Regions from separate parts of the Homo sapiens genome. Here regions 1 and 3 are each linked to region 2. Evidence: fine-mapped expression QTL. A gene starts in region 2. Each other region holds a variant in brackets. All regions are shown on one strand. Distances are from middle to middle.

Region 1 (10,963 bases), 480 kb after region 2:
GCAGAACAAATGGACTAAGACACCTAGTTAGTATCCATGTTGTCTCATAAAAATTCTACACGAGTTGTTGACAAAAATTTATTTATTCTAACAATTTTGAAAATGTTAGTCAACTCAATTTTGATATTTATTTGACACATGTCATATTTCCTTTTGCTGACAATGAGATATTTATAATGTTTAATCAATTGAACAGTTATATTTTTCAGGCCATATTGTTTTCTGTTTTTGATGTGTTTCCTATGAAATTCATGTCACAACATAAATAAAATCCTACCTCTTTCTTTATGTATTGGGTGCCATAGAAAAAGTTAGACTTACGTAAAAAATATAGGCTTTGGCAAGAGTATTTATGACTACTATTCTGTATCATGTGCTTATTTTTGACTTTGAAAAAGAATGGCAAAAAAATGGCTGGTTTCAAATATTTCACCATGTTGAGTTCTGGGTTGTAGCTTCCAATGAAATGGGGATCTGAAAGTTGGAGAAGAGTGAAAATAGTGTAATGACTATAGGAGTAGATTTGTTTGATAATGAAAAAAACAGAGGCAAAACACACTCAAATATTAGGCTGGCGCAAAAGTAATTGTGATTTTTGCCACTGAAAGTATTACAAATTATTGCTGATCTTGATCTTATATCAAAATCCTGAGAGTTTGTTTATATGCAGTGATAGTAACTCAAAGCATTTGAACAAATGGATTAACCTCTCTTTTAAGGCACTCAAATTAATTCCAATGATACCTTTAAAAAAAGTTGTAAAGCTAACACATTTGTTTTAATGGAAGATAAACAAATGAGATCTGAAGAGCTTAAAATGGAAAAAATATTTTTTTCTAAACTCTCGTTTCTATTTTTCAGAGTCCTTGTATATTTCCAGAAAAATGTTTATACCTACCCAAAAGTTTATCAATTTCCTTTTTCTTTCCTTTCTTTCTTTTCTTTTTTCTTTCCTTCTCTCTATACATTCTGTGTGAAACTTGCTTTCTATTTAATGTCACCTAAAAATATTTGGGACATTATGCTGTATATATGCATAGCATTATTTTTTCATGGCTACATAGTATTCCATGAATTGTATATATCTTAATTTATGTATGTATTGTTTAAGCATATTTGAATTATTTTGCATTGTTTTCATACAAACATAATAGCAATGGGTGTATTCCTATTTGCAGATGTCCTATCTACTTATCTAGACTTTTTTGTGTAGATTACTGAACTGAAATTGATTGTCAATAAGTATGTTTATTTAAATATTTTTAGATATTAACAAATTTCTTCCAAAATGTTTCAAAAATTTATACTCCTAGCAAAGCTATATGAAAGTTATTTTTTCTTACCTGTAATCTGTATGCCTTTTGTGAAAAAAAGACTTCAGAAATTTGTGTGCACAGTGAAGATCCTTGATATATGCACCATGCATACATACGTGTATTTGTATATATTCTCTGTTTTGTGTGTGTTTGTGTGCATCTGTGTGTGTATGTGTTCTATTTGTAAGAGAGAATGATTGCATTATGTCAGAAATAAAACACTATAAATATTTGCTGAGTGGGTAATTGAATGAATGGTTGAATCACCTATGCTGTTCTGTGCTGTTCATAGAATTGAGTTGAATCTACTATTCTGCTGGAATTATAATTGGGACGCTCAGTGACAAGCTTCTGCTCAGCAATTGGCTTTATAGTAATGGTTGTTCTGCTCCTTCATGAAATGAATGAGATCCAGGTCAAGCCAATTATGAAGGGAGAAAACATTGAAGTTAATGCAAATCATTCAGAATAGGTTTAAATAACCCTAGATTTGTTTAACTAACATTTAGTTTAAAGAATATTTGAAATAACTACTTCCTCTGTGAGTCCTTTCCCAACTAAGTAAACCTGAAATGTACATGCATCCTTCAAGAAACCACTGACACAGCCACTTTCTCCTGGCATCAGGCAAGATGCTGCAGTTGCAAAAGAACTGATTTGCTTCTTCAGTAGCAAGTGAGCCCATTCTTAGGACAAAAAAAGTTTTGAATTTTATCCACAGGTAAAAGATATTTTTGTTATTAGTGGAATCAGTGATTCAACCATTCATTCAATTACCCACTCAGCAAATATTATTAGTGCTTTATTTATAAAATAATGCAATTATTCTGTCTTAGAAATAAGGCACACCTGGTTTGAAAACTAATTTTCTCTCTGACTGTTTGACATTGCATATGTCATTCACATTCTCCAAGATGATACACTCACCTGTCAGTATTTTCAGTATTTGATTTTAAAAATGTGGAAGGCCTGACTCATAGGCATTTAGTGATTCTGTTATCTTCTTTTCCATCTTTTATTAGCGTAAATGATTGTCATCATAATCAGGTCATCAACCAGGGATTTCTGGCTTAGAATTATTCATAGGTACAACGCTGATGGCTCTTCTGAAATTGCCCCTGCATAGGTTAATCCACAAATTGTACATGTATCTAATCTTCGGCCTCATAACATTGTATTCCCTCAACACCTCCATTATTTTATAATTCTGCAACAGACAATTCAATTGTATTATGTTGTCCATTGCTAACATCTATGTTGGATGGTTTTTATCAACAGTCTGTATTGTAGAGGGTGAGAAAAACAGTACAGGTAGCAGGGTTCATTTTACCTCATTTGTATTTATTTAGAACGATGCTTTTTCAAATATTTCAAATATTGCTATTTTTTTCTTGTGTCTTTAATATGGTTAGGCTTTGTGTCCCCACCCAAATCTCAGCTTGGATTGTAATCCCCATAATCCACAAGTGTCAAGGGAGGGACGAGATGGAGGTAATTGAATCACGGGGGTTGGGGGGGTGGTTTCCTCCACGCTGTTCTCATAATAGTGAGTGAGTTCTAAGGAGATCTGATGGTTTTATAAGGAGCTCTTCCCCACAACTTTGCTTGGCACTTCTTTCTGCTGCCTTGAGAGGAAGGTGCCTTGCTTCTCCTTCACCTTTTTCCATGATTATAACTTTCTTGAGACCTCCCCAAGCATGCTGAACTGTAAGTCAATTAAACCTCTTTTCTTTATAAATTACCCAGTCTCAGGCAGTTTTTATAGCAGTATGAACATGAACTAATACACCCCAACAGTAACTTATTTTCAACAAAAGCACAGTTATGCTCTAGGTCCCTACTCTTCTAAACCATACACCCTCCTAGAGGTAAACTAAAGACCTATATGATGTCTCACTTTTCATCTTTACCTGTGTTTGCCAAAGGCACTTCAAACTCATCTGTCCTTTCTTTAACATGTCTTCTCCTTCCCAAAGTATTTTTCTTCACCTTCAGTCCACATTTTAGTAAATGACATCATATTTCAGTCATTCTGCATGGCTAGAAAATTAGGAATTATCTTGGGTTACAATTTCCCAAACTTTTATATTAAAAAGAGTATCTAACACTACCAGTTTTATATCTTAAATATTTGTTATATATCTATCCTTTCCATCTTTATTTATAGCACTTTTAAGTCCTTTTTAATTTTTACTTGCAGTTTGACAAATATGGTTCTTACTAGGATTATACTATGCGTATTCCTCTATAACCTTTTCCCTATGTAACTCTACATCTTTCTTCCCTTCACTTCCTTAATGTGTTTTGTCATTCCATGCCCACCATGTTCGCATACACTAATTACTAGAATGTGAGACAACCCCTCTTTAACCCTGTCATCCCTTTGGGTTGTCAAAACCGGGTGATCCATCTTTATTTATTGCTACACAACTATGAATAAAGTTTGTTCCCAAGAAAAGACAGCAACGTGTCTGGGTAAAAGGGGATCATATTCTCTGTAAAAGATATGCTAGATTCTCAGCCTCATATTCATTTGTTTCTCAACCACCTAAGAGCTATGCATTCTCCCAAGCTCAGTTCAGACATAATCACTTCCAGGAAGCTTTCTGCAATGCTGTGAGTGTGAAACAAGTGTGCCTCTCAATGTAATTTAGGGCAAAATCTGTAATATAGCACTTGATTGTTAATATATCTTTCACCTTTGTTGGACTGCAAAGTACTGAAGGACAAAAACCTGGGTCTTTTATTTTGTCATCCGCAGCTTCTAATAATACTGTTCCAGGCATATAACAGATAATTGACATATAGATGGGTAGACAGACAGATAAATAGATCTATATCTATTACATATAATGGAATTTTTTTTGTAATATATATTATATTCTATGATGGCAAGGAATTGTACCTCATTTCTCCTTTCTGTTAAACTACTTTAATGGCAAAATCCATTTTAGTTAATAATTATTCAATAAATATGAACCAAATTGAGTTAAATTAGCAAGATACATCGTTTAAATTACAATGTATTTGTAACAAAAATCTTAGTGTAATACAGTGATTTATATGTTACTTTTTAATATTCATTTTTTGCTTTATATTTGTGTGTTAATTGTTCAATGAGATGCTTGGCTTACAAGATTTTTCTCACCCATATTTAGGTGAATGTATTTGAATTATAAATCTGTGGTGAACAGGGGCTGCACAGATTTAAGGTAATTTTAATATGATCAACAAACTGACTTTTTTTAGAAAAGGTAGAGTTTTGATGTAAACTAATATTTTGATAATAATCCTAGCACCCATGGGTTTAGACAAGTGTTTTTACTCTTATATGATCCAAAAGAAATTAAAGTGGCTGGGCGTGATGGCTCATGCCTGTAATCCCAGCACTTTGGGAGGCTGAGGTGGGCACATCATGAGGGCAGGAGATCGAGACCATCATGGCTAACACGGTGAAACCCCGTCTCTACTAAAGTACAAAAAATTAGCCGGGCATAGTGGCACAGGCCTTTAGCCCCAGCTACTTGGGAGGCTGAGGTAGGAGAATCGCTTGAACCCGGGAGGCGGAGGGTGCAGTGAGCCACTGCACGCCAGCCTGGGCAACAGAGCCAGACTCCGTCTCAAAAAAAAAAAAAAAAAAGAAAGAAAAGAAATTAAAATATAATTTTACATTTGAGACACACTAACAATTCAGTTGTCTGATTTAATATTTCTACTCTTGTTGTGGATGAATGTATATATTTTTAATAGAACTTTGGATTTTAAGCAGGAAGTTACTGTAACATCAAGTAAATTGTTAGAAAGTCGTTCTTCAAGCTCCAAATGAAAGATTCTTCACTCTTTGAAACCTTCTTTTGCTGACTCCATAGACTTAACCACTTGTGATTAGAGTTCCCTTGACCTTGAAATTGCATTACAGATAGTTGTCTTTGGTGCTACTTTCCTTAACAGACCACAACTTCTTGAGTGCAGAAACCATAGTTTATTGCTCTCCTAATTCTAAGTGAAAAAGGAAAGGAGAAGAGAATGTAAAAAGCAGGGGAAAGAGGCAAGCAGAAATAAAATAGTCTTTGAATATTTTGCAGCCACTTAATAAATTCTTAAGTCAGATCCTTTTTGTCCCACTTCTGACTTCTGGTTGACTTTATGTCTACTGGGATGGCCTCTTCTCAAGACTCAATTGTGTTCCAGTATGTTTTCTTTCTTCTCTCTCAGCATACCTCCCATTTCGCCCAAGTTATACAGTAAACTTGCTGTTTGAAAGAAAGCGCTGGACTTGTTTAATTTATATTAAAGAATGGGTGACCATTTATTGCTTTTATATGGTATCCCAATTTGATGTTAACATTTTAAAAAAAGACATGCTGACACAAAGTAGTAAATCTCTAATGGTAGAAATTATCTGTACAAATTTGGGATATAAGAGCATTGATTATCAGTACTCTTTGTCCTGCTTTCCTCACTGTCCTGCTTTGCTGAATAGTATTTGCAGAAGAGAGAAAGAGTTAGTATGCAGGATAATTTACAGAAACAAGTATGATGTGGGAAGAATAGAGTTTTTTGAGAGCTTAATAAATTTTTTTCAACATAACTTTTGAATGATTCACTCTGGTCATTTAGACAGGAGGCCCAAATAGCAATGTTAGAAAGCTGCCAGAGAATTTGTTACACAAGATAAATCCAGCCTTTGGGAAATCTTGTGGTATTCCTAATTAC[C/A]TTCTTGTTTCTTTATACACGTAAGGCTTGGATGCTGGAAGATAACACAATTATATCTCCTCCCCCAATCCCTATGTAACAGATTTTCCACATTGAATTTCATTTTTGTTTTTTAAATAATATCAAACCTTTGCATTTCTCCAGGTTAGTAAAAATGCAGGCCTCATTGTGTTGCTAAAGGATCTTCCTCTTTTCCCCACTTAGAATTTTCTGAACCTAATCAGCAAGGAGCATTTTGCCAGGCTCCTGGTCATTGGTCCATAAATGAATGACACTCTTCAGGCCAAGGGCTAGCTAATTGCCAATTCCGAACTCTGTGTGTTAACTAGTGTGTGTTCTTTTCACTTTTCAAAGTCATAACGGATCAGGTACAGTGGCTTTTGCTTCCACATTTGAGCTGCCTGAATAAACAGGAGGTAATCCCTCACCTTAGGCTGCTGCATAATGCATTCCAGCTTGTTGCTCTGAGTATTTTTTGACAGCTTTAACATTTGTTACTGGTAGTTGATCTTGGACTTTTTGATCCATGAATCTGAATGGTACGGCTTGTCCTCATGCTCATCATTTCTTGGTCAGCAAATTAGTCTGGGGCCCTTGCTCAGGATCGTACTAAAAATGAAAATCCCCATGCAAAATAAGTATTTCCATAATTTTGAGTATCTTTGTTGAAAAAGAAAAAAATGTTCTCTCTTTTTAATGGCATGAGACAGTTATTCTTCCATCATGTGAGCATCTTGCTCTCTGTTTACAATGTGTATGTTATGCAGATTCTTATACAAATATCTTTTCTATTTTTTTAAACGAAGGCAGGTTCACACCTCTGTCTTGTGTCCACCTTTCCAGGTACCAGTGCCTCTCATTTATTCTTAGTTTTCAGTATTGCGATTTGTTTTAGGTAGACGATTTGCGCCTTGAAAAATAGTCATTGCAAACAATGAGTAAATACTTAAAAAAAATTATAGTGTTTGTATAGTAAAAGTGTGTGTTTTTTCTCTTCTAAATTTACTGTAATGTCACATTTTACTTGTAAATAAGTAGGAATTTCAATGTAGTAACGTAAATAAGTAAAATTAAATAACCAGTAGTTCTAAATACTGTTTTAATTGTTATTGTCTGTTTACTTCATAGTAGTAATTGTAGGAATATATTTCAAGAAAGTAAATGTAAAGTCTAACAAAGTCACTACATTATTTGTTATAGTAAAAAATATCAATAACCAAAATGCCCAAAATGAAGTAATTGATCAAATTTAATGAGAACAACCTGAGGGAATATTATATGAGTGGAGACAATTGTATTTATTTAAAAAAATATAAAAAGTTGAAAAATGCTATTTTTATGAAAAAGCAGAATTTGACATCTAACATATGAAATGATCTAAATCAATGTTTTTCAGATGTTTTAGTTTCCATTTTTAAAAATAAAAAGTGTATTGTACCTATGACCCTCATATATGCATACATAATACACAAATAAAACAAGTTTTTCTCACACCTGTAATCCCAGTACTTTGGGAGGCCGAGGCAGGCAGATCATGAGGTCAAGAGCTCGAGACCATCCTGGCCAACATGGTGAAACTCTCTTCTACACTAAAAATACAAAAATTAGCTAGGCATGGTGGTGCGCACCTGTAGTCCCAGCTACTCGGGAGGCTGAGGCAGGAGAATCGCTTGAACCCGGGAGGCAGAAGTTGCAGTGAGCCGAGATGGTGCCACTGCACTCCAGCCTGGCAACAAAAGGAGACTCTGTCTCAAAAAAAAAAAAAAAAAAAAGAAAGGTTTTTCAAAACAATAGTCATCCCATTAAATATAATGTATATTGACATTTTCTTTTTTCTCTCTGTTTTAATTTAATTTTAAAAGAATTTGAATTGTGACCTGTTAAAGTGATTTATTGACCAAAAAATGGGTTGTGATGTGTAGCTAACAAGACATTGACCTAAAATACATAAACGATGTACTTTGAAAATATTCTAGAAAGAAATGCAGTATAATATTAATATTTTATACATAACATTTAGATATGGAATATTTACATTTTTCCCTCATTCTGCTCCAAAGTTTTAAAAATATTGGCAGTAAACATTTTAACCTCACAAGTGTGACTCAACTTTTCACGTGCCATATTTTTTCATCAAGTGTAAATATGTTTTACTTTTCCAAGTGCTTTCTTCCAGCTTCTTTTCCGTTTTTGGTAGGGTAGAGCCCAGGTTTTAAAACACAGAGTATTTTTCTGGACCTAGTAAGTTCAAGATAAATAACTATTACATGAGTGAGTGAGTTAAGTGCTTGAATGGCTTTATAAAACTTAACTCAAATGTGTTTTTATGAAGTAAATGTTAGTTTTTATTATTATTTTATTCACTTCATTACAGAGCAACATCAGCTCTACTAAAATGGAAGTTAATATAGTCAAATGACATTTTCATATTCAAAATATACTCTTGTCCAAAACATGTCTTCAGTGTTAGGACAGAGTTATGTTTGGTGATAATGCTGTATAAAATGTCATCCTGCTGAAGAAAGAACGTAGGCTTGGGAGCCAAAACAGTTTGTAGTGATCTCGCTGAGCCACTCCGTTGTAAAATGAAAATAATAATATTTGCCTCATAAGCTTTCTGAGTAATTAATTTGTATAAAATACCTAGGTTCATGACTGGCACATATGTTAAGCGCCTGCCTTTCCTTTTCCCCAGCTACTGGGTAATATTTTAAAATATTTTATAATTTTAAAGAAAATTGTTGTCATTTACAGTCAGCCCTTCGTATGTGATGTGGAACCCGTGGACACAGAGGGCCGGCTTTTGGATCCAGGGTTGTTGACTGAGTACACCGATGCAGAGCCACACATACTGAGTGCTGGCTGTACTACCATTTCATACAAGCGACTTGAGCATCCACAGCTTTTTGTATCCACAGGGTTTGCGGAGCCCTTCCTCAATGGATAATGAGAGCAAACTGCAATTAGCTGTATATAAAATTACAATCTTTAAAAACGTAGGCTTTTATATCAACTGAAGTGACTCAGGTTCAGCAACGCATAATATAATTTTTCTTTTCTTTCTTTTTTTTTTGACACGGAATTTTGTTCTTGTCACCCAGGCTGGAGTGCGGTGTGGCGCGATCTCGGCTCACTGTAACTTCCTCCTCCTGAGTTCAAGCGATTCTCCTGCCTCAGCCTCCCAAGTAGCTGGGATTACAGGCATGCGCCACAATGCCCGGCTAATTTTTTATTTTTAGTAGAGACGGGGTTTCACCAGATTGGCCAGGCTGGTTTCAAACTCCTGACCTCAAGTGATCAGCCCGCCGCAGCCTCCCAAAGTGCTGGGATTACAGGCGTGAGCCACCATGCCCGGCCGCCAAGATAAATTTTATAAATAAATACATAAAGTGTAAATATGAAGTGGGAAAAAAATACCATCTAATTTTAAAAAGATACAACACTTACACAGATATGATATGGGGGGAATATATCTTAGAACCAAAAGTACTAAGTTGAATATAAATCATCATGTTGTACTATACCTATGAAAGGGAATTCTCATATATATTTCAGAAGATTTGGCCAACAAGAATAGAAAATGTCTTTGAGCTCATCCCTGTGTTCTTTAGGATCTTCATTTAAAAAGCAGAGTTGTCATTCTTGTTTTTTGTTTGTTTTCAGGGTGTACTAAAAAACTAAAGTCAGTTCACCATCGTACATGAAAAATTCTCAAAAAATTTGTAAACAAACATTAAAGATTTAATTTGATTTAATTTAATAGAGGAAATTAAGATTAATTTAATACAAATCTCTGTGCACATTCAAAATAGAAATGGTGAATTCTTCTTCATGTTCACTGAGAAGAGATAAGGATATTGGTTAAACTGGCAAAGAGAAAGAGCAAAAAGGGAAGGTGCTGTTGAAATTTTAAAGCAGTCTTTTAAAATATAACTGACCAAAATGATTTTTAGACTCTGATACAACAAAATAAGTGATTGAATTTTTGAAGTCTCATAACTTAATAAAATAGTATGATGTCCCAGAGGTTTTGATTTACATCTGAATAGAACCTTTTAATGAAAACAAAATATACACAAAAATGAATAAATAAAAATAAAAAATATTTTACTGAGAAAAAAAGAGATTATTGATCATTTAATATAGGGGTAATTTCCTTAATACATCTATTTATTAATGTTATGAATTAATTTTCTCAACTTAGAAAAAGTATTCCCTACATAGTATGAAAAATTCAAACAATGTGATAATAAAAGGTAATGCTGCACAGGAGGTAAACACACAAACTACTGGGCTTGAATTCAAGTTCTGACTCCATCTATTAATATTTCTGTAAGTCTATATACAAATGTCGCTTAATCTCTCTTTGCCTCAATTTTAAAAAAAATGTAAATGAAAATTAAAATAATTCTTGTTTCTATTATGGGGCTTAAATTGCGTAATACTGGCAGATTACTTAAAACAGTGCTTGGCACAGAATAACTATCCAATATATTTTAGCCTTTATAATTATTGTATAATAATATAGTCAAAAGACACAAGCAGAGAGTGCTTACAGAAAGAACAAAATGGGGCAACAAGTATATAAATCAGAGCCAACCATTCTTACAACCAAGTAAATGAAACAATGAGACCTTTGTTAACATATCGGATTGAAAGATTTATCTGTTGTTATAGGTGTGGGAAAAAAAGAGACTCTCAAACACTGTTGGTGAGAGTATAAACTGGCATAACCTTTCTGAGGGCAATTTAGAAACTATCAAAGTGAAACTGCACGCATCTTTTGACCTAGAAATCTGACTTCTAATATTACTGATATTTAAACATGTCTACAATCTTGTTAACAGAAAACTAATGGATGCAACATAGCAGTTCTAGTATGAGTTGTATGTGCTTCAGAAAAGTACATATACACATTCATACAAAATATG
Region 2 (10,963 bases):
AGCAATATTTTTGAAGGATGATTATTTTGATGGAGGGCCAAATATCAAAGACAGGTCAAGTTAATGTACCTGACAGACTTGGGAGACAGGGAAGAGATGGGAAATGATCAAGATGCAACACACATATGGCCATTCTTTAAAACCATAAAGAACAAATTAGACTAATTCTAAGAAACCATTAGACATTTTTATCCCATACTGAGAAGAATGGTATGTAAACAGTGACAATACAGAGGTATTTACCTGGTCATGAGCAAATGAATCTTTGGTTTTGTTTCTTTATGGAAACAACTTTATATCCAGAGGTCTTGGTGAGAGAATGCTACATAAAAGAAAAATTAGACATCTGTAAAGGTAAGTGAATTAAAACTGATAGAGATCCTGAGACTTAAAATATATCCAAGAAAAAAAAATAGAAATGCATATCTAAAGGAATCTACTGGATGAAAACTAAGTAAACTTTACCTTTAAATTAGTAAGATTTCAACTTTTACTTCTATTTTCTAAAATCTTAATTAACTGCAAATGTTTATGGTTTGCATAAATAGTTGGACCAAAATGTCACAAAGGGTGAGCATAAATTCCACCTACAGGAGATTAGATATTTGCAGCTTCTGTAAGTAAGAGTTGGTACTGTGACCACCAAAAGCTTGACCACCACAGTTGAATTAGAGCTCCTCTCTCATACTTCTTAATGGTTTTGGTTGCCGATGTTATCAAGACATCCACAAAGTAGACTATGTTCTTTAGCGTTGTTTACTGAAGCAGCTGTTAAATTAATTAAGTTGGTATATTTTCCAAGTCTGATTAAGATATGTTTACTTCTGCTTTCACAAAACAGCTGTGATATGAGTACTGAGACACATCTTCTAAGAAACTCAAAATATAATTAAAATCATATTTTGTCCAGTTCAAGTAAAAGTTTACTTTTGCTTCTTCATGTGTTACTTTGCACTTATAGGGAATACTGGCATATATTGAAAATGCAAGATTTTGATTCCTTTAATTTTTATCTTAGTACTTACCCATTCACCATTATTGGTAACACATTAACATAGAGGATTAAAACATCAAAACAGAAAATGCAAATGCTAAAAGAAGCTCCAGTAGGCAAGGCAGATGATCCAAGAAAGATGACTGATCTAGACATGAATTCACCATTGGTCTGCTTCCCTACAGTTATGCTATGATTTGATGGAACATAATAATAGTTATGATCTGTTAACTAGAACCTAGAACTTATCTGAGTCAAATGAAGGGAAAGAGAAAGGAGGGCATGATTTCAATAAAAATCTGTTACACAAATAAGACAAAAGCTCAGAGGCACCTCAACTGCTACAGATGTGCTGCATCTGCTTGCTTGCCCATTGGGGACGATGAGATAAAGAGATTAAGACATTTACACAAAGATGGCTAGACAACAAGATCAGATCAGCAACATGACAGCTAGGTTGAGGTGTCATAACCATAGCATAGAGAAAGTGACCTACTGAACCACTTACCCCACTTACAAACAATGTTTTAATTAACTTAATGTACAAATGATATTTTACCAGGGTACAGGATGAGCTGGTTAATTCAAAAATGTCATTAGCATCAAACAGAGAAAACCAGTGATCTTTTAATAATGCCATTTTATTAAGAAAACAGCATTGGAATTTAATAATGGGGCATACATACTTTTATATCTTTTAAAGACAAATCTTACATCAAAACAACTATAACTTAAAATCCCATTCTCACATGTCAATAGTAGAAAATCTTGGTCATGGTATGTGAAAAGATTTGATGTTTACTTGGAAAACACAAGGTAGTTTGTTTCTTTTTAGTGGAACTCTAACAAGGAGTTTTGTTTGTTTGTTTCTTATTTTAAGCACTGTTGTTTCTCTAATTCCAGACATTGACCTGCTTAAACCTGAACACTGTGGATATAAAAGGATACAGAAGTGTACCTGATCTATAGAGCCCTTACTCTCCAAGCAGAAAATTGTAAAAATATACAGTACATAAGTTAACTCCATAACAGCAAAATTCTAAAGAAAGATGAGTCAGATAGACTAACAGTTTGTCTGTTACATATATAGATATTAATAGGGAATATATAATTGTATATTATTACAAATTAGAACATTAAAAGTCATAAAAGACATGAGAATAAATATAGTCACTCTTTCTGGGTCCTGAATGAAGTGTAGCCAGGTAACCTAGTCACCCCCAAATAATGATTGAAGTCAACATTTTAAATTTGAACTGACAGAAATAGACCTTACTATTTTTAATTAAACAGATTCAACGTTTCCTTTCTCTCCCTCTAAAGCATCAGATAACTTCGCAAGGAAAAGTGCTATTACATTATCTACTTGTTTCAAAAATATATTCACACCATAGTCTTGTGATAATATTGCTCTCTTTATAAAAAGTAGAAACATTAAAAGCTTTTATTTAGTTCTTGCTTAAGAAAGGAGAAATATTTAGTCCATTTACATCATGTAAAAGGTAAATTTTCTTGTTCATGTTAATGGTAGGAGGGCACCATGAATCATGTGACCGATAGCATTTCCTTCTTTACATTGGCTGCTAACAAAGTTAATGGCAGACCTAGCACCATTTGTAACAAAAACATCAATGCAGTTTTCTCTATAAACCTCATTTCTGGCTTCATCTTATCTCTCCTCCTATCACTTTACCGTTTGTCTTGATCTCACTGACCTACATTTTTTATTCATTTTTTTAAACTGAATAGATTTTTATAAGCCAACTTACATCCTTTCTAGGGCAAAGCTAGTTGAAAGAAATTATGTGACATAATGACTCAAAATGCCCAAATTATCGGATCATGGGTAATATAGAATGGTGTTCTAAGAAGGGAAGAGAACTTTCAGAAAGCTTTCTACACTCCCGATCCCTCTTTCAGGCTGCATGTGCTCAATTATACACTTTTAAAGGCAAAAACCTCATCGAACAATAAAAAGAATGCGTTAGAGCTCCTACACTTTGAATTTATTTTGTGATGTATTTAATGTGGTTATAAAAGTCCTGGTAGTTCTCTCTGTGAACCGACAGCCTGACAGAGGAGAAGAGCCAGTGGGGCAGAGAAAAAGCCACAGAAGGGGAATCTCCACAACGATCCCTCAGTTAACACATAAAGAAGATAACCTAGTTACTGGAAAGCAGGAACACGAATATAAAAAGTATGGAAGAGTGGAGAAGTATTAAATGCACACAAATTTGTCTTTGCTACAGAACAAGCAATCAGCCTAGATCCTGAGGATAGCGATTAAAAGCAGAGACTGGGTGTTTGTACATCATTGGATGAATGAGAAGCAGCCAAGAAACAGGAAAAGACTAATTTTAATTACCAGAAAAACTGCAAGAGAAAGAACACAGGGCTAGTGGTAGACGGCTTCCAGCTACAGGCTGCCTGGCACTGTACTCTCCTTGCCAATTAGAGCCAGTCAGACCCCATCGGGGGATTCAGTGAGCAGAAGAATCAGCGTCAGTCCAGGGTCAGGCTGCTCTCAAACACACATGAAAAACGGACACCAGCGGACACGGGGTGCGACCCTAGACTCCCATGCAGTTTCTTATACAGACACAGAGATAGAAAGCAGTACGTGGGATTTCCTTTCCATTAAATACAGGTGCAAACCACATTCTCTATGGAAATATATTGCAAAGGAAATGTTATATAATTTATTTAACAAATACCCAATTACCATCAGCCCAATCGTGGGAATTGGAAAACGACTCAAAGACTGAGAGGAAAAAAAAAAAAAAAGTAGAGAGGAGGACTGGCAGAACAATGGCACTAAAGCTGCCACACTGTGGATTTACTACCTGTGTTATTTTTCCAATTACAGCCATTGTAATATAAAAATTCCGAAAAAAAGGTTGCTGAGACCATTCCTTCGCTTTTTTTTAGAACTGAGTCAACACCCCAAATCAAAGAGAAATATAAACAGGCAGAGCCTGATAGTCCTTAGATGAAACGCGTAAGTGCAGAAACAAAAGAGAAGTGCTTCCCATTCAGGACTTAAGAAAATTCTGCAAAGTGAAAAAGTCCACTCTCAAACCGACCTAAGTGAACGCGTCAGTCTGTGCTGCTGCTGTCAGAGGTGTGAGCCGGGGACTACAGGAATCAGAGTGAAGACAGGAGCGGAGGAAGGGACTCTCGCCTGGATCTCCCGTGCCGACTCCAGCCAGCACGTTTGCTTTGTAATCTATGAATGTTAAATACGGAGGGGTTGCAGAGCAGAAACGCTCGGGGAAGGGGGGCAGGTCCTCTGTACTTAGCAGGGAAGGAAAATGCCGGTTGACTAGTGAGACGAGTGGAGAAACACAGAGCACCCTCCGGGAGGCGCACAGTTCGTTAAGCCCAGGGACATGCTCAATGAACCTTTGCAGCAAGAGGCAGTGAGGCGCTGGACGCGGGCGCCGGTGACAGCGCGGGCGGCCGGGGAGGGGCGAGGGGCCGCCCCGGGAGGACACAGCCAGTCAGAGGCGCGGGGCGCAGGGCGCGCGGACGCATTGGAGGAAAACACGCGAGCCCCAAACACACCAGCCGCAGGAGGCGCCGCACCTACTTCCCAATATAACCAACTACGGCGTGGGGGAGCGGAACTGCGAGAAGGCGGCAGCCAAAGTGCCATTAAAGCTCGGGGCGGAGAGGATGCGTTACCTGGGTCCCGTCTGCTGCGAGAGGCAGGGCAAGCTGGAGGATTCCCTCTGAATGATTAAGAACTCCGCAATTCGCCTCTGCCACAGGCTGCAAAGGACCCGAGGAACCGCTCTCTCTGAACTGTGCTGATGGGCAGGAGGATGGGAGACAGGAATTGAGAGTCACAGAGGAAGGACAGTGGAGTCTGGCATCTTATTGGTAAGTGGCTGACATTCCTTTGCCAGTGACTGCGTTCTGTGATTGTGCACTTCATCTCCCAGCCACTTAGGATTTTTGACACACTCTGTTCTGCAAAGCCATCCTTTCTTGCCATGTTGCCAGAATGTAAAAACTGTAAGATGAAGCTTTTTTAAATAAAGGAAACAAAACACGACTTTATTTCCTGCTGGGATTTTATGGCAAAAAGTTGAAACAAGAGTAAATATAACCTATTTGTATATCTCCTAATGCCACCCAAAATAAGAGTAAGCAATTCCTACACGCAAATTGCAAATTGTAAGGCAATAAATGCCAGGATAAAGTGAGGATGTTTCTACAAAAGAAACTAAATGTTTGGAAAATAGGATGCCGTTCTCAGGTACTGAATGTATGCCTTATGTTTGAGCAATGAGTTTCCGAGACTAAATAATTGGGCATCTGGCATTGCAATAACTTGTTAAAATTCAGTAGGGATGCTCTATAAGTGGAGTTCTACAAAGTTCGTGAGACTGAGAAAAACTGTATCTTGGATTATGCTGAGCTTTTTTCTAAAGGTTGTATAGGATTGTGATAGATTAAAAAATTATGTTCAGACATCCTTACCATGTTTTGTAGGGAGATATACGGAAGAGAATATCAATTTGCACATACACAAACCTGAGAATTACTCTGATGACCTGAACAATAAGTTGTTTCAACTATATTTATTTGCGAAAGAACCAGAATCCACTAAATATTTTAGAATTATATTACTTTTAAATCTTAGAACTGTTCTCCCAAGAAAAATACAATTTCATGTGGTAATTTAAATGCAGGTGAGAAGCAAAAAACTTTTAAACTGTTGTATGTTCAATGCCTTACCTACATTTCATTCATTTGTTTCTTAATTTAAAAGAGAAAATCATTTAGAGGGTCAATACTTCTACTTTGATTCTCAATTACGACTGTGGAAATAAGGATGAAAGAAGTAGATGTTCATTAGAATACTAGCATTTAAAATTATAGACAAATAGTCAAATTTAAAAATTAATGCAGATATCATCGATTACTGTTGAATTGCAACAGAATTACAGAAGTACTTATGACCATTACAGGGAGCTTAAAGGAGTTCATTATGATTAATATTGTGACTCTCAGTATTTTAAAAAATAATGATTAGGTCATTAACTGTTTTTGAAAATGCCTGTAGTCAATTTTGAGCAATTCTCATGGTTGCTTGCATATTCTCCTATTTCATGCTCAAATTATTCTAAGTTAAGTGGGGACTAGTATGCTGAGTCTTAAACTTAACAGGCATAAGTTTACTCTGACTCTAATCGAAAAGAGGTATGAGTAAGAATATGTCATATAAAACTAATGATAACAAATTAAAGATATTACATAAAAAGATCATCTAAGTCCATTAAAGGGAAAAAGGCAAAAAAAATCAGAGTTAAAGTTATAAAAAGGGAAATTCAATATAAAGAATAGAATTTGACAAATAGCTGGAGTGTGAGGGAATGATATTAAAGCCTATCTGAAAATAGAAAGTCAGTGAAATGATTATTACAAGTGCCAGTGTTTTTGCTTAGGAATTGGTGTATCCTTTAAATTATTTAAAACTTCTGAAAATTGAGAAAGGAGGAGAAAAACTGCTAATTTTAATTTCTTTCTGATTCCATAGACAACTGAACAGAAAGTTAGATTCTTAAAAGTTATATAAAAATATAATCCCATAGATTAACTAAATGCCGGACTTTGTCTATAAGTTGTGAGGCACATGCACACCAAGGTGCTTTTGGAAATACATCCAAAAAGCTACAGTTGTGGAATTTTTAAATGAATAGCTGAAATACCTGAATGTTTCTCAAGGTGAGCAGTTAGTACTTCAAGTATTAGGTGGTCTGAAACAATTCTTAGTCAGGGAGCCAACCTGAAATCAAATCATGAATCTATACATAGAATATGTTTATGTAAGATGAATCATTAAAATTAGTAGCATGTAAAAATTTACTTCAATCTTATGTGTCCAATTAAGTAGCGCTATCTGTTAGAAATGTACCAGGTTTGGCTGATATGTATTTCTTTAAATGTCTCTTTTACTTCACAGTTTAGAAAATCTTGACCACTTTCAGGGTAGAGGTAGGAGTGTGATTGTCTGTCACAGCTGACTTAGCAATATGGACCAGAGGGTGCCAGTAAAGGGCAAAGGGCCCGCATAGGCTGGCCAAAGCATTTTGGAGTTTGTCTTACTTCTAGACAAAATAAAGGCATAATTTGTGAAGATTAAAATAAAAATGATGAAAACTTCTCTAGATGGCTGTAATACTGTGAAGATGATTTGACTGTAGAGAGTTTGATTGGCTAAAACAAAGTTGTAGCAGAGTTTAGTGTCTCCTTCATCAGTCAAAAACTAATCCAGAATTTTATGAGGCTCAGATATTTACAATATTGTAATTTGCCGAATCCATTCTTTCTCATGTATCTTGATTACCTATTGTCTTTGAACTTTCTTTTAAAATACGGGTTTTTAAATTTTTACCAAGTCGTTGGAAATTTATTTCTCTTACTTTAAATAATAAACTCATACATTCATGTAGTTTGTTTTCTTGAAATTCTGACTCCAGGAGTTGATTTTATCTCTCTTTCTTCTTTCTGACAATCCAAGCATAAAGTAAGAGAGTAATATGTTTCTCACAAGATGTTAAGAACCGTGTTGTAAGGCTGTGCTAACATGTTACATGAACTTCTTAACACTTTATAGCAGGAAAGAGACTGGTCGGAAGCTCAAAGCGGTAGAATCACTGCAGAGGTCTATTTTCTGAGCATTTGTGATCAATAACTCCACATTAGAGGCTGGTACATTTTAAAAAGTAATGAAGTATATAAAACTCCTAATGCTTAAGATTTAAGATTAAAAACTATTATGAACTATATTCCATCTCCCTACCCACTCAAGTAAGAAATCCTGTTTTATGATTTTTGGAGATTCAAATGTGTATTGTTAGAAGTGTTCTAATAAACTGAATATTATTAGTTTATGTTTTTTCCAGACACTTAAACAGTGTTTTAGTTAATTATTTTATTTAAATTGAATGACACAAAATATAGTGTTTTAATACAGTGGCTATAAAAGCAATTTTTAAAGGGAAACATGAATTTGCTTTTTAAGAAAACTGGTTTTACAATGGATTTCTTTCATCAAAATTATTTTGAAGTATTGAATTGAATCCCAAGAAATTGACACAACACTGTATAACTTCAGTTATGTTTTGCCTATTATAAATATTTGCATAAGCTAATTGTAGATAATTTTATGTCTATTAATCCCCATAAATTAAAACACACGTCTTTAGTTTTATATCCCAGAGTAGTGCATGTTATATTTTTGACATTATACCCTCCTCAAACATAAGCTCATACGTGTTACAAAGCTATTCAAAGTATGGTAGTTTCTCTTTTCTCCAGTGCAGGGAACTGGGAACTTTCCAGAGAGGCCACAAAGTAATTGTGAAAAATAAATCAAGATTGTCTGTTTTATGGAAATAAAAAAAAGAATCTCATTTTTAATCTAATATAAAATAGTGTGAGATCTATCATTCATGAGAATCTTAAGAAATTACAGTCATATTCATTTCCTGTGTATTTCTTAAGCTAGAATTTCTTGTGATCACTGCCATTTTTAAACGTTTCAGAAAATGTTTCATTAGATACATTTTAAAACACGGGTGTAAAGTTGTTTTTTCTCTTTTTCTAAGTGGTTCTTAAAAACTCATAATGATCTAAATAACTTGTTGCCCAATGGCCACTTTTTATTTATTTATTTATTTTCACAAATGACCTTCTCATAACAGATCCGACAGGACTCACCTATTTCCTCTTATGCCAGTCATGTTTCCAAATATTTCTCACACTCAATTTGCATAGAGCGGAGATCTAGATAAAAAGCAAGAAGCCAATACATTTTATGAGTTTTCTATGAAAAATATTGTTACAGTTAGTATCTTTACTAGAAAATATGGAGCCAATTAAAGGGAAAGTGACTAAACTGAACAGAATCCAAATAAGCAATTGCATTTTAGGCAAGGAATATTTCATTTATCTGAATGATCAAAAATTCTCTTTCATAACCATTGACTGGAAAAGTATAATTATATATTTAAACATTTTATGAAGGGCGTAGAGATGTTCTTCATAGGATTCTTATAGCTGCTAACAACCCAGAAAGGAGAACATCTCATCTTCCATTACTATCCAGTAGTAAACGTAGCATATGTTTAGGAAGAGAAATGTTGCTGATTATATAGGTGATAAAAAGTTGATTGAAATTCTCTTCCTTTTGTGAGTTATAATATTGGCAGAAGCATTCATCATGAGGCTAAAAATACTGAGATGCTCTCATCGAGAGATATTATAATGATAGTAATAAAGTATCTGGAGCTGCAACCAGGTCTATTAATGTATTTTTACAAATATTTCATTAGTTGCAGGAGTTTGTATTTATCATATAAATAGTAGAGAAATGGGATGTTGATTTTGTGAGAAATTTACTTTTAAGTATATAAAGTTTTATCTTTATTTTCTTAAATAATTAATGTTATACTTAGAAGTATTAAGGATTTTTTTCTGAAATTAAACGAAATATAAAGGCAATACTCAAGAATTTAGAACAACTATTCTAATTCACCTAGGTTCTCCCATTTCAGTTACATGCAAGAACTTACTTTCAATTATGCAATATTTGTTGAGATACTATTGTTCTTGAGCCTTTAAGTGTACTAAACTAGACAAAATCCCTGATGATTAAAAGTAATATTATTGGAAGTTACAGGTGAGTGACAACAGGAATTTTTAAAAGAATTTTATTGTTTTCTAAAAATACATTTTTATTTAATTGGCAGTTTCATGATCATTAAATATGATAGGAATTCCTGGGCACTGGAACAGATTGACCCCAAATATATCTGAAAACACTGTGAAAAGTCTCATGTTTAATCTGTTAGGTATTGTATTTTGCCTTATTTTGTTATTTTAAAACCTTCTTCTTCATATTCTTTTCTAAAAGATATAGACTGGCTTAATATTATCTCCCATATAGCAAAAATTATTAAAACAACTTGTTAGTGACCACTATTTCTTTTCTAATTTTGTATTTTCAATGATAAGAATTTCAAAAGTTATGGCATTGATAAGAGAATTGAAACTCTAAGCTTCATAATTCTATTTAATACTCTCTTCCTCCTTCTGTGATGCTGTTATTCTAATGTGTGAGCTGGTGAATGAGAGTTCATGCTAAAATAACCGTATCATTCAAATTCAGCACAAATCTCATGATTTATTGATGATTAATTGTGGAACCCTTAGGAAAAAGTGACAGAATAAATACCATTTAATATTGGAAGGGGCCATGCGAGCTCATATTTTTACCTACTCATAATAAACAAAGTTTCTTCACTAATAAGCAAGGGTATAAAAAGGTGAAGTGATGTGTTCAACATTGCAAGTAATGCAAAAGATGGAATTAGAACCCACATCTCTTAAATTTGAAGATCAGAGCTTTTTATGGCTTATACTTCATTTTAGACTGTGGACATCTTGATTATTTTTGTATCTATTCAAATCAAATCCTTATATTAGAATATAAATATATGTAATTTCCTTGTTGCCACTGATTATACATAAAACATTGTCTTTTAAGATTAGAAATTTAAGATCCAATTATATTAACTCAGTGGAAACTGCTATACCCGCATTCTCTTAACCAACAACTACAGAACTTAATTGCTAGATGTGAACTTTTTCACAATGAACTTGGTATGCACTCACCAGCTACATCAAATGACAGAAGGGGTTTTTTTTTTGACAGTTTTAATTATGAAACTTGGGAATCTTTTAGAGTATTATAATGAAGTAGAAAAAAGGATTTAAGTGATTTTATTCCATGGCATATATGTAAGGGAACATCCATTTGCCCTATAATACTTCTTAATTTTTCCCAGACTGGCAGGTTTTCTTTTTTTCCTAGTAATAAATGTTTAATGGAAGCCCTAAATCAAACAGAAACTCAGCAAGAAATGTAGATGAGAGTATATTTCTGTGTTTGACAAA
Region 3 (10,963 bases), 160 kb after region 2:
TTTGTGACTAATTTCATTCATCTATAAAATGGGTATTATGAGCTTTAATAATCTTTTCAATTCTAATATTATATAATTATTTAATGTAAATAAAGATTATTAGCTGTCTGAAATATGTACTTTGGAGTAGAAAATAATCCATTAATATGCATTTAAATACCCAAATTGTGCCAGAAACTGAAAGTATAAGTTGAAGTAAAATATGATGTTATTTAAATAGAAACAACTATGGGGACAGGGTTATAAACATAAATACACACAGAGATATACACACATAATATATACAAATGTATTTACATTCCTGTAAAACATGGAAATGCATATATCTGTGCCTTTATATATTAAGCATTATATACCTTCATATAATAAACAGTAATTGTATTCATTACACTTACTGAAATATAAATTGAAATTTAATGGCTGGGCTGCTGGTTGGCCAGGTGCAGTGACTCACGCCTGTAATCCCAACACTTCGGGGGGCCAAGGGAGGTAGATCACTTGAGGTCAGGACTTTCAGACCAGCCTGGCCAACATGGTGAAACCCCATCTCTACTAAAAATACAAAAATTAGCCGGGCAAAGGGGTGCACACCTGCAATCTCAGCTACTTGAGAGTTTGAGGCAGGAGAATTGCTCGAACCTGGGAGGCAGAGGTTACAGTGAGCCAAGATCGTGCCACTGCACTCCAGCCTGAGCGATAAAGCGAGACTCCCTCTCAAAAGTAAAAAATAAATAAATAAAAAATAAACAAAAACAAACATAAAAAACAACAAAAAAAGAAATTTAACTAGTTTTACCTAGTTCATATAGATATTTCTAAAGAGTTAATGTAATTTTATGGTTACATTTACCCCACTCCTACAACTCAGGATGATGCCATATGATCCATATGCCCAAAGGCTGTATCAAAGGATAAAATAGGATTATTTCTAATTTAATTTAGACAGTCACATCACAATAATTTCCACACTTGCCTCAGTTTGGGTGCTGTTCATATTGTGTTTAATTTCATGTTGCTACATTCTCTTTGAGACATAAGTGTTACAGATATCTTCTGTAGTAATGTAGCCAAATAAGATTTTGTGGTGATGGTAGTTTGTGTGTGTTCCTGTGTATGTGTGTGTTGGGTGTAAGTGACTTTAGATAGAACTCATATCCTTCAAACATTGAAAAGTCAACCACTATTTTTATTCAGTTTGCGTTTTTGTATTATGTTTTAGTTACTGTATTCAAAATATTATATTCTCTCTATATCTCCCTGAACAGCATATTTTATTATAGGTATCCTTACCTTTAAGTAGTAATAAATGTTTTCGACCTAGTAAGTTCCTGTTCTGTGTGGGAAACACGGGAGGGAGAAGAAAAGACACACACACACTACCTTAAAGGGTAAAAAACCTTTATCCCATGTAAATGGCAATGCAGATGTAATGAGCAAATGATATAATAAGCAGATTGATATAATAAGCAAATGATATAATAATAAGCAGATGATACAGTAAGCAGATTGATATGATAAGCAAATTGCAATGGGAAAGGGAGAAGGGAAAAGATATTTACACTCACCAGACTATGGAGGATTCACCACCAGACTGGGAAGCAACAGTCTCGGCTCCAGAGTTGGCCACTCATGTCTGTGCACAGGCGAGGAGAGGTCTCATGAAGTTTCGGCGCAGTCTGGGACCCTAACTCTTTTTGTAATGAGTTGTTTCGCATAAGGTCCAGTCAAGAGGGCTCTTTGTGACTGGGCTCAAGGAACACAAAAAGGTCAACTTGTTTTTGTGATTGTCTATTGTTTTCCGATAACTAACATATAGGAATAGATTGAAATAGAGATTTCTCTGAAACAGTGCTGGATGAATGCCTCAAGGAGCTCACACAACCTGTTTCGGGACTTGGTGACTGTTGTTTGTGTCCATGTTCAATTGAGTTCAAATTTAATATTTAACTTTCCCTTCACAGTCGGCCTCCATCTGATACTCAATTGTAGGAAAATACCCTTACAGATACATAGGGAAGGCATAGTCGATATAGATTACAGATACGGGGTAAGCACAGGAGAATTAGAAGCACAATTAATAAAATACCACACCCACCATGGCTTTGCAAGGAGAGTCATATTGTGAGAATTGCCAGTGATATACACATAAGATTCAATATGCAGTAAATCACAAACCCCTCCTTGGGCTGCGGTACGCATATCTAATGCCATTCGATTTTGCAACATAACAGTACGCAGCTGAGCAAATTCATCTTATAACAACGTAAGTCCAGTGCTACTATCATTAAGAGCTTTTTGTACGTGTAAGCTCAATATTTTAATTTGTTGCTGAAGCAGGATTGTACCGGTGGCAGGGGAGAATACTGTGATGGGGTACCACCACCAGGGGGTCTGGTGCATTCATAATCAGTGATGTTTGTAAGCATCTAGATTACTGGGGAGGGGACTATTATCCTGGATGTTGAATGTAATTAATGGCCACCCTGAAGTGCATCTCCCCGTCCAAGTGGGGGCAGGTATTGCCACCCGTAGGATCCACGTGCCCAGAGGGCGCCCAGGGAACAGGAAGAGTTCTACTATAATTGTATTGCTGTCATGTGTAATTTAAGTAACAAAGGTGCTGTGTCTCATTTGGGTTTGGGCAAAATAGACTGTTTGGTTAAAAGAAGTCCAGGTTGGATTACAAGTGTTATTATCCCACCCCCATTGGTATTGGCATATCCATCCAGAAATGTTAGCAGGGATGATTCTCCAAGGTAGCCCATTCCTGGGGGCCTCCCGCGGCAACTCCACACATAGCCAGTACCGACTGCAGTTGGCTTGCGTTGCAACGGTGGCTACCCAGTTGATGAACTCATTCTCAGCCTAAGACATGATGACCCAGGTACTGATTACTAGCAGACAGGTTATTCTCTGTAATAACAAAAATGGAGGGGAGGATGCATTATTTTTCTTCGTTAGGAAATAGTACTATGCCTTCATTTTCTGCCCCTATAGCTACAAGGTCACAAGCCTTAGGGGCAGGATCTGATGGACACTGTACCCATATTTTGGCTCCAAGATTTAAGTTGCCCCCTTTGGTGGACCTGAATTCTCCGGTTCTGTATGTTATTTCTATTGGGGCAGAAATTTCCTTGGGGGTTAATTGTTGACAAGGTACCACTAACAATTGAGCAACCCGCATCTGAGGTTATATAGCAAAAGAATCTGGAGTGGTATTATATAAAATGACCTTTAACTCTCCCTGGTAATCACTATCAATTATATCACCATACATTATGATGCCTCTCATTGCAAGACTTAAACTTATTGTAATCCACTCATCCACATTCAAGTTTGCAGTTATGGTGGGAATTTTGCCCTGTTGATCTGCCCGCTGATTAAATAGTCTGTCAAGAGAAAGCCGAAGATGCATGAGCATCAACATGGAAAACAGTGACAATGGCAGTGTGAGGATATTGCTTTTTCCCATTAATTTTTCATATTTTAATACTATTAGTTTGAAAATGAGCATTTGATATGGCAAAGTATACGTAGAGTGTCAAATTGAAGTAAATGCTGCTTTCATTATTTTATCACAAAGCTACTCGACAATAAAGAGGAATGAAGCACTATTGAATGTTGTACCTCACAGTCATGCTCTGTAGGAATGCTTTGTTCATTAAAGTAATAGTTCCAGTAAAGATTCCTCTGGGGATTAGCTGGCAGAGTGGCTTTATACACAGGCATTTTTTTTTCATAACAATTCACTAATAAATTATGGATAAAAATACAGCTACCCAAAGTGGGTAACATCTTAGAGGAGCTCTGCAATGCTGTGACATGGTGAGTGTATCAAGAACATTCTCTTGTTTTTTTCTATTGCCAGATGTCTAGAGTCCCTCCATCCTCTGGGCATCATCCAAGAAGTCTGGGCCAAAGAAAAAGAAAAATTAGAAATCAAAGATAAAATGTTTACTCTCTAATAAGTTCCAGTTTTTAACGTACTCGGGCTCCTTTATTTAGTCGTCAAGCCAGTATATACCAATAACATTGTAACAGTTTGCTTCAGTAATAAAAATCTATTACAGCATACAGTGGTAACATGTGTTCTAACATGTAATTCCTGACGTTGAGCTTCACTGTGTAATGAAATATTAACATAATTTAAAATATAATATGCAATCAAGAAGATGCTAAAAGGATAGTAGATAGCATTAAAATAAACTAATCATTAATAGTTTATTAGTAGATAATGGGGTAGATTATGTGATATATATAAATAAACATCTGTCATAGGACCTGTCACATAGAAGCCACTCAAATATTTTGTTGAATCAATGACTGCTTAGACTCCTAGCTGACCATTTTTCTTATTTAGTCATGGTGATTACATTCAATTTTGGTTACTATATTCAAAAGGTTTTAATCTCACCAATATTATCTACTGGAAACTAACCTTTCACTAAAGATGTCCTTAGGCTTCTAGAAGCAACACCATAACATTTTCTCATCTTCCTGCTTATCAGGCAGTGATGAAATTTCCTCTGATACTGTCTATTGAAGAGAAATTTTAAAAGAATACATGAAACTTAATTCAGAATTTCAAGGACTCCAAACCATTCTGTAGAAATTATTTCAGAAACCAGATAGAAGTTATTCCTCTAAGTGACATTCCACTGAAGTGATTTTTGCAGAGATCATTATAACTATTGTTGCTGCTGAGTCAGATGACTCTTTTCAGTCTGTAGGCAACTCAAACCCATGGTACATTGGTCACCATTAATCATCCACTCCTCTCCTCTTAAAATTATCTCCTTTCTTAGTTTCATGGTATTTGTTTCTCTGGTGTTTCTCTTATGTCTGGGTATTTCTTTTTACCTTCCTGGCAAAATTGTCTTCTCTTAATGACCCCTAAAGTGCTGGTATTCTCCAAAGCTCTATCCTCGGTTTTCTTCTCTTCCTTGACATACCATTTGCTCAGGTAATCTCATTTACTCCTTTGGTTTAATGGCCCACCAATATATAGATAGCTCTGAAACTGGCTAGTCCAACCTAACTGCGTAAACTCCACACCCATGTAGCTAACTTCTTACTAGATATTTATTTGCTGGTTTCATTTAAAATTCCATGTCTAAAGTTTAACTCAATATCTTAACCTTAAAATTTGTTTCTGTATTTTAATAGTTTAATTACCCATTCTGTTGCCCGTGTCAGTTAAACAATGTTATCCTGTTCCTTATTCACATATCTAATAGATGAATGAAGACTTACAAATTTTACTTATCTGATATTTCTTGAACCTGTCCATGCAGCATTGTATTCATTCTCATTGCCTCCACTCTGGCTGTCATTATGGTTTGCTTGGTCTGTTAAAATATACACTGTTTTCCTAATCTCAATTTTTTAACTTCTAATTCATTCTACTTCCACCATAGTGAAGTTTTTAAAAGTATTTGTCACCCCCTTAGAAAAATTCAAGATAAAATTTTACTTCTTCATTATGGATGTGAATACTCTTCTTTGCTTATCTGTGCTCTTGGCATCTCCCCCACATACCTTTTGCTCATTATACTATGTCTCTACTTAACTACTGACAGTACTTGAGTGTGCCATGTTCTCTTACAATTTTATGAACTCACAGCT[G/T]CTACTCCCTCTGCTCAGAAAGCCTCCTGCTCTCACCACTTAACTTGGCAAATTTCTCAATCCTCTTGAAAATTTAAGTCAGATGTAACTGCTATGGGAAATCTTCTCCAATCCTGCCAGCTTTCTTCCTCCAGGCAGCCATCCTTCATACCCATATAAAATCTTTTCTCTTATTGCAACATTTTATATAGTGAGTGTTTTAACATATTTGCCCTCTAGCTTATTATCTAGCACTTGAAATAGTCAATAGCCATTATGGAATCTTACTTAATAAGTGTCATATCATATAATTCCATGATTATCAAGAAGTGCAAAGAAAATGATTTAAAATGGCACACTGCCATACAGCTTGAAGTGTATTACTTTGCTTAGAAACAATGAACATCTGATTTTTTTGTGTGTGTAATGATGGAAAATAAAGTAGCTGGTTGGAAAATAATATCCCAGCCCTATACCTAAAAATAGCAGTGGCTAGAATAAATGAAATTTAACACTGTAAATTTTAAAAGTGATATTTTTAGAAAACTCATTGATAAAAGACTAGTCATTGGTTTTGAAATTCTTCTTGATCGTGTATAACGTTTAAATAATCAAACCTATTAAATAAATCAATTCCAGATGATAAAGAAACTTGAACTGAAGTTAGACATAAATTAGATGCTTAAATACATACACCTAAGAAAATACAAAAGAAGAAAAAGAAAAAAATAATATGAATGGAGAAACCAAGTTGCCCCATCTTTTATTTTGGAGAACACAGAAAAAAAGCCAAAAATTCAAGAAAGAAAATATCAACAAGAACAGAAAAAAAGGAAAAGACTTTCTTTTTCAGGTAATATTTGGAAGGATATTGTGTAGAGAGGGTGAGCATAGGAAGAGATGAGGTGCCATGAGACTTATATGAATAGGCTGATTAGGGTGAATCGATAACTAAAGATTTTTTTTATTCATTCACTTAACAAATATTTATTGAGTATCTATAGTGGGAGTGGATCACAAAAACACCTAAAATTAAACTTGTAAATGATAGGTTAAGAAGTAATCTCGATTGGGTGAATCAATGATAGTTAAGAAAATGATTACTAAAATAGACTAATTCCTTAAAAAATAAAATATCTTGATTTCTTTGAACTCAGAGTTAATGGCCTATTCTTTTTTAGAAGATAATTGCCTTTAGGTACAAAACAATATACAGTGAAATCCTCAAAAGTTTTTTTTCCCTATGACCTTAATTAAGATCTGCATTGAACTTTTTTTTACCCTTTGTCTACTATATTTTTAAGGAAATAAATGCACTAAATCTGAACTAAAAAGTTTCAATAACTAGACAATGTGAGCTAATGATTTAAATTTTGTACTTAGTTGGAGCTGAAAGTGTATATTTTTCTCTTTGGTGAAAAAAGGAGGGGAAATAAAATAAAGAGAAATGTTATCACAATTTTAAAATAACCCATCAAAATAACCCATCAAAATAACGGAGAGGAAATAAAATAAAGAGAAATGTTATCACAATTTAAAAATAACCCATCAAAATTAAGGAGAGGAAATAAAATAAAGAGAAATGTTATCACAATTTAAAAATAACCCATCAAAATTAAGGAGAGGAAATAAAATAAAGAGAAATGTTATCACAATTTAAAAATAACCCATCAAAATAAAGGTTTATGAATATATCAAAAATAGCTTCTGCAGATGGAGAACCATGTTACATATTCTTTTAAAGCAACAGATGGGAGAAAATAGAAATTTTTCTTAGAGATAATTATATAAAAATAAAATCTAGTTTGCAACATAAATTTCTACCTATGTGTCCTATGAAGCAAAATTTATTGTAGATTTTTCTCTGATTTTATTCCATTATGAACCACAGAAGGAGGAAGAGTTCCATTACTCAAGGTTTCTAAAAACACAATAGAGAGAAATACTTTTCTACTTTAAACCCTCATTCACATTATAGCACTCATACCTTGTAGAGTTAGATTGCAGTAATGTTCACTGACATTCTAAAGTTTTTATATCAGCTCTGCTTTTATTGGGCACAGTATTTTCTGTTTATTGGTAATTTGTGGTTGCATTTTAAAAATACTGTTCTGTTGATAAGCTTTCATGATTTCTTAATGTAAAATTGAACTGGGTTTTTGTATACTTTGCCTGCAGCATCTAGATTTCTCTAAGAAAGTTTTTTATTTTAATTCAAATTGAGTTTTTGCCAATCTCATATACCACTGTAAGAGAATGGTTAATGTGACTTTTTCTACTATGATGGCATTATCTTCAAGAACACAAAGTTAAAGAAAAAAATGCTTTTCAGTACCCACATTCTCTAAGGAGATAACATTGACAATGGGACAGATTCTTTTCTTAGAAAAGTGACCACTTTCTCAATCTGTAAAATAAGACCAGAGGGAAGGCAAGAGATCAAGTGACAGGGATACCTAAAAGTATTACTTATTAAAAGAGGGGATGGCTGAAAGGAGAAGCCTGGAATCTTAATTCCTGCAAGAGTAGCTGATTGCCCTTGTTGATCTTCCTTGAGGCTGAGAATGGAAAAAGAGAATAGTAGAGAGAGGGCAAAGTAGATAGAGAAATGAGGGTTGAGCAGCCAGTTCTCAAACATTTCCTGTGAGTCAAATGGACAATGAGAGCTATCTTGCCTGATCTAAGAGGGTTGAGTGTTAATGGAGGAATTCCCAGAGGCAACTGAACAGGAAGTACCTGGAGGTACTGAGATGTTCAGGAGCATCTCACCAGGCTTTCTCTCCAAAATTCTACGTGTATCCAGTGATAAATCCAGCATTTTGATTCATTCTATAGAGAGGCACTGGTCAGTAAGAAACAAAGAAGCAGCAGACAACCAGGAGAGAGAAAATTACAATCAAAGATGGTGAAGTAATGAAAAATGTACCTTCTTCTCTTATAACCCCAGGCAGCACTTAACATAAAGAGAAGTCTGCGAAATAAAGGAAAGCAGTGGCACCCTAGATGTATAACCCTGCCCATCTACTGGGGTTTTGGAGTCGGATACATGTTATTTTAATACAAATTACAATTTACAAATTAATACAAATTACAATTTGTTATATTAATACAAATTACAATTTGTATTAAAATAACATGTCTCCTTCCATGTATCTTAACATGAATTAAAATAACAAATTGAGATATGTTATTTTAATACAAATTTAATATCAATGTTTTAACTACTTCAATTTTATGTATTCTTATGATGAATATCTTGAGTTTTACTTTTTAATTTTATGTTCTACCAAAAATGGTTTCAAATGAACTTATCCAATATTACTACAAACTATATGTATGAAGATCTGATTAAATACACAACTTTTGTCATTATGAAAATACTGTGCTTTCAATCACTTAAAGCAATTTTTGTGTGATATCACTATGCTAATATTTAAATTGGTGAGTTGTTTATAGTTTTTTGGGACTTTTTACCTTAATTTTATTTATAATTATGTAAAACATTATTAAATACAAAACATCTGAGAGTCAGAAACCACATAGCATTATACATTTAAGAAAGTCTTAATCCATCCTTGAACACTTCTTTTTTGATCACTTTTTGACTTTTCCTTCCAGTGGTTACTATTATAAATATAAACAAATGCATGAGCAAATGAAAATATACATATTCATATTTTCTTCTCTTGTACAAAACTTGGCATATAGTAACACCATTCTGCACTTTTTATTTTCATTTTAACACATATATATTCTGAAGATGACTTTATTTTTGTATTAAAAATTATTCTTTTTATAGGTGATTAGTTATATATCATACAGGCATATGACAGTATGTCCAACTAGTCCTTTGATGGTATAAGGTTGGGTTAATTCTTTATTTTTATTATTGCAAATAATGGTGGAATAAATAAACATGTATATATGTCACTTCCTATTTTGGCAGTCTAACTTTCATATGGATTCCTAGAAGTAACATTGTTGATTCAAAGGTGACTGAATATGTAATTTTGCTAGTGGTGTCCAAGTCCCTTTCCAATTTCAATCTCACCATCTGTGTACGAGAATGTCCCTTTCATCACAGTCTTGCCAACAGAACATGTTGTCAGAACTTTTATGTTTTGCCAATCTGATAGGTGAGAAATGAGCTCTCAGTGTATAGAAACAGAGAAATTCTCCAAGAGTGAGATTGAGCAACTTTCATGTTTACAATCTGCAATTATTCAAAACATGATTTTAATGTTTCTTATATCCCACTATATGAAAGGAACACGATTTATTTAATATTTTTATTTCTTTTTATTTATAACCATTAAGAATTTTAAAGGAGCATGTATTATTTGGTCTGATATTAAATACGTTCTCATGCTTATGCTCGTTAGTATTTTTACTAATTTCTTTATGTTTAATTGACAAAAAAAATTTATTGGATAAAACATATTGTCTTGAAATATGTATACATTGTGGTATGTCTTAATTGAGTTAATTAGCATATGCATTAACAGACATACTTCTATTTCTACATTCTTAGCAGTTTTCTACTCTCTTAGGAATTTTCAAGAATATAATACATTTTTATTAACTATCATCATCATGTTGTACAATAGATCTCTTGAAATTATTCCCCCTTTTTAATTGAAACTTTCGAACTTTGAACATTTCCCCAACCACTTCCCTCCCTCAACCCTTGATTCTACTCTCTCCTTCTGTGATTTTTGACTTTTGTAGGTTCCACACATAAGTGAAATCAAGTGGTATTCATCTTTCTGTGCTTAGCTTATTTAACTTAAAACAATGTCCTCCCAGTTCAACCATGTTACACAAATAACAGGATTTCTTTCTTAGGCTTTGGAGTGGAGTGAATAATATTCCATAGTGTGTGTGTGTATACATAAATATACATTTATACATATATATACACGTACATATATATTTATACTACATTTCTGTGTTTATTTATCGTTTGATAGATTCTTAGGCTCTTTCCATATCTTGACTATTGTGACTAATGTTGCAATGAGCATGGGAGTGAAGATATGTCTTCAACATAATGATTTATCTCTTTTAAAAATGAGTGGGATTGCTTGGTCATATGGCACTTCTATTTTTAATGTATTTGAAGAACCTCTGTGTAGTATTTTATATTGACTGTTCTAATTTAAATTCCTACCAACACTATGCAAAGGTTTCCATTTCTCCATATCCGTGTCAACACTTATTATCTTTCTTCTTTTTAATAATTGCCATTCTGTTGAGTGTTAAGTGACGTGGTGGTGTTGATTTACATTTCACTGATGATTAGTTACATTTCTATGATGATTAGTTATTAGTTTACATTTCTCTGATGATTGAACATTTT

Alleles and levels. Positions count from the first base shown, and alleles are read on the strand shown. Sizes are in standard deviations (SD) of each study's normalised expression. Not every link is listed here.
With allele C in place of A in region 1, the expression in tibial artery of the gene that starts at base 4,555 in region 2 is lower (small effect, 0.38 SD a copy in GTEx).

Evidence for each region. PIP is the estimated chance that this variant, and not a neighbour inherited with it, causes the effect. A credible set is the group of variants that fine-mapping cannot tell apart.
Region 1: its variant is the best candidate, but not a certain one, in a credible set for the expression of CNTN5 in tibial artery (GTEx, PIP 0.86).
Region 3: its variant is the best candidate, but not a certain one, in a credible set for the expression of CNTN5 in aorta (GTEx, PIP 0.58).

What each region holds. Positions count from the first base shown.
Region 1 is chr11:99,499,592-99,510,554 of GRCh38, forward strand. All of the region lies in intron 2 of CNTN5 (contactin 5), which reads left to right. Among named protein-coding and RNA genes, the nearest start is that of CNTN5, 480 kb to the left of the region's middle. The variant C/A (reference allele first, on the strand shown) is at 6,033.
Region 2 is chr11:99,016,395-99,027,357 of GRCh38, forward strand. It overlaps CNTN5 (contactin 5), which reads left to right and starts at 4,555. Exons shown (of 25, transcript NM_014361.4): 1 at 4,555-4,876. RefSeq lists a silencer at 6,932-7,132.
Region 3 is chr11:99,178,726-99,189,688 of GRCh38, forward strand. All of the region lies in intron 1 of CNTN5 (contactin 5), which reads left to right. Among named protein-coding and RNA genes, the nearest start is that of CNTN5, 160 kb to the left of the region's middle. The variant G/T (reference allele first, on the strand shown) is at 5,626.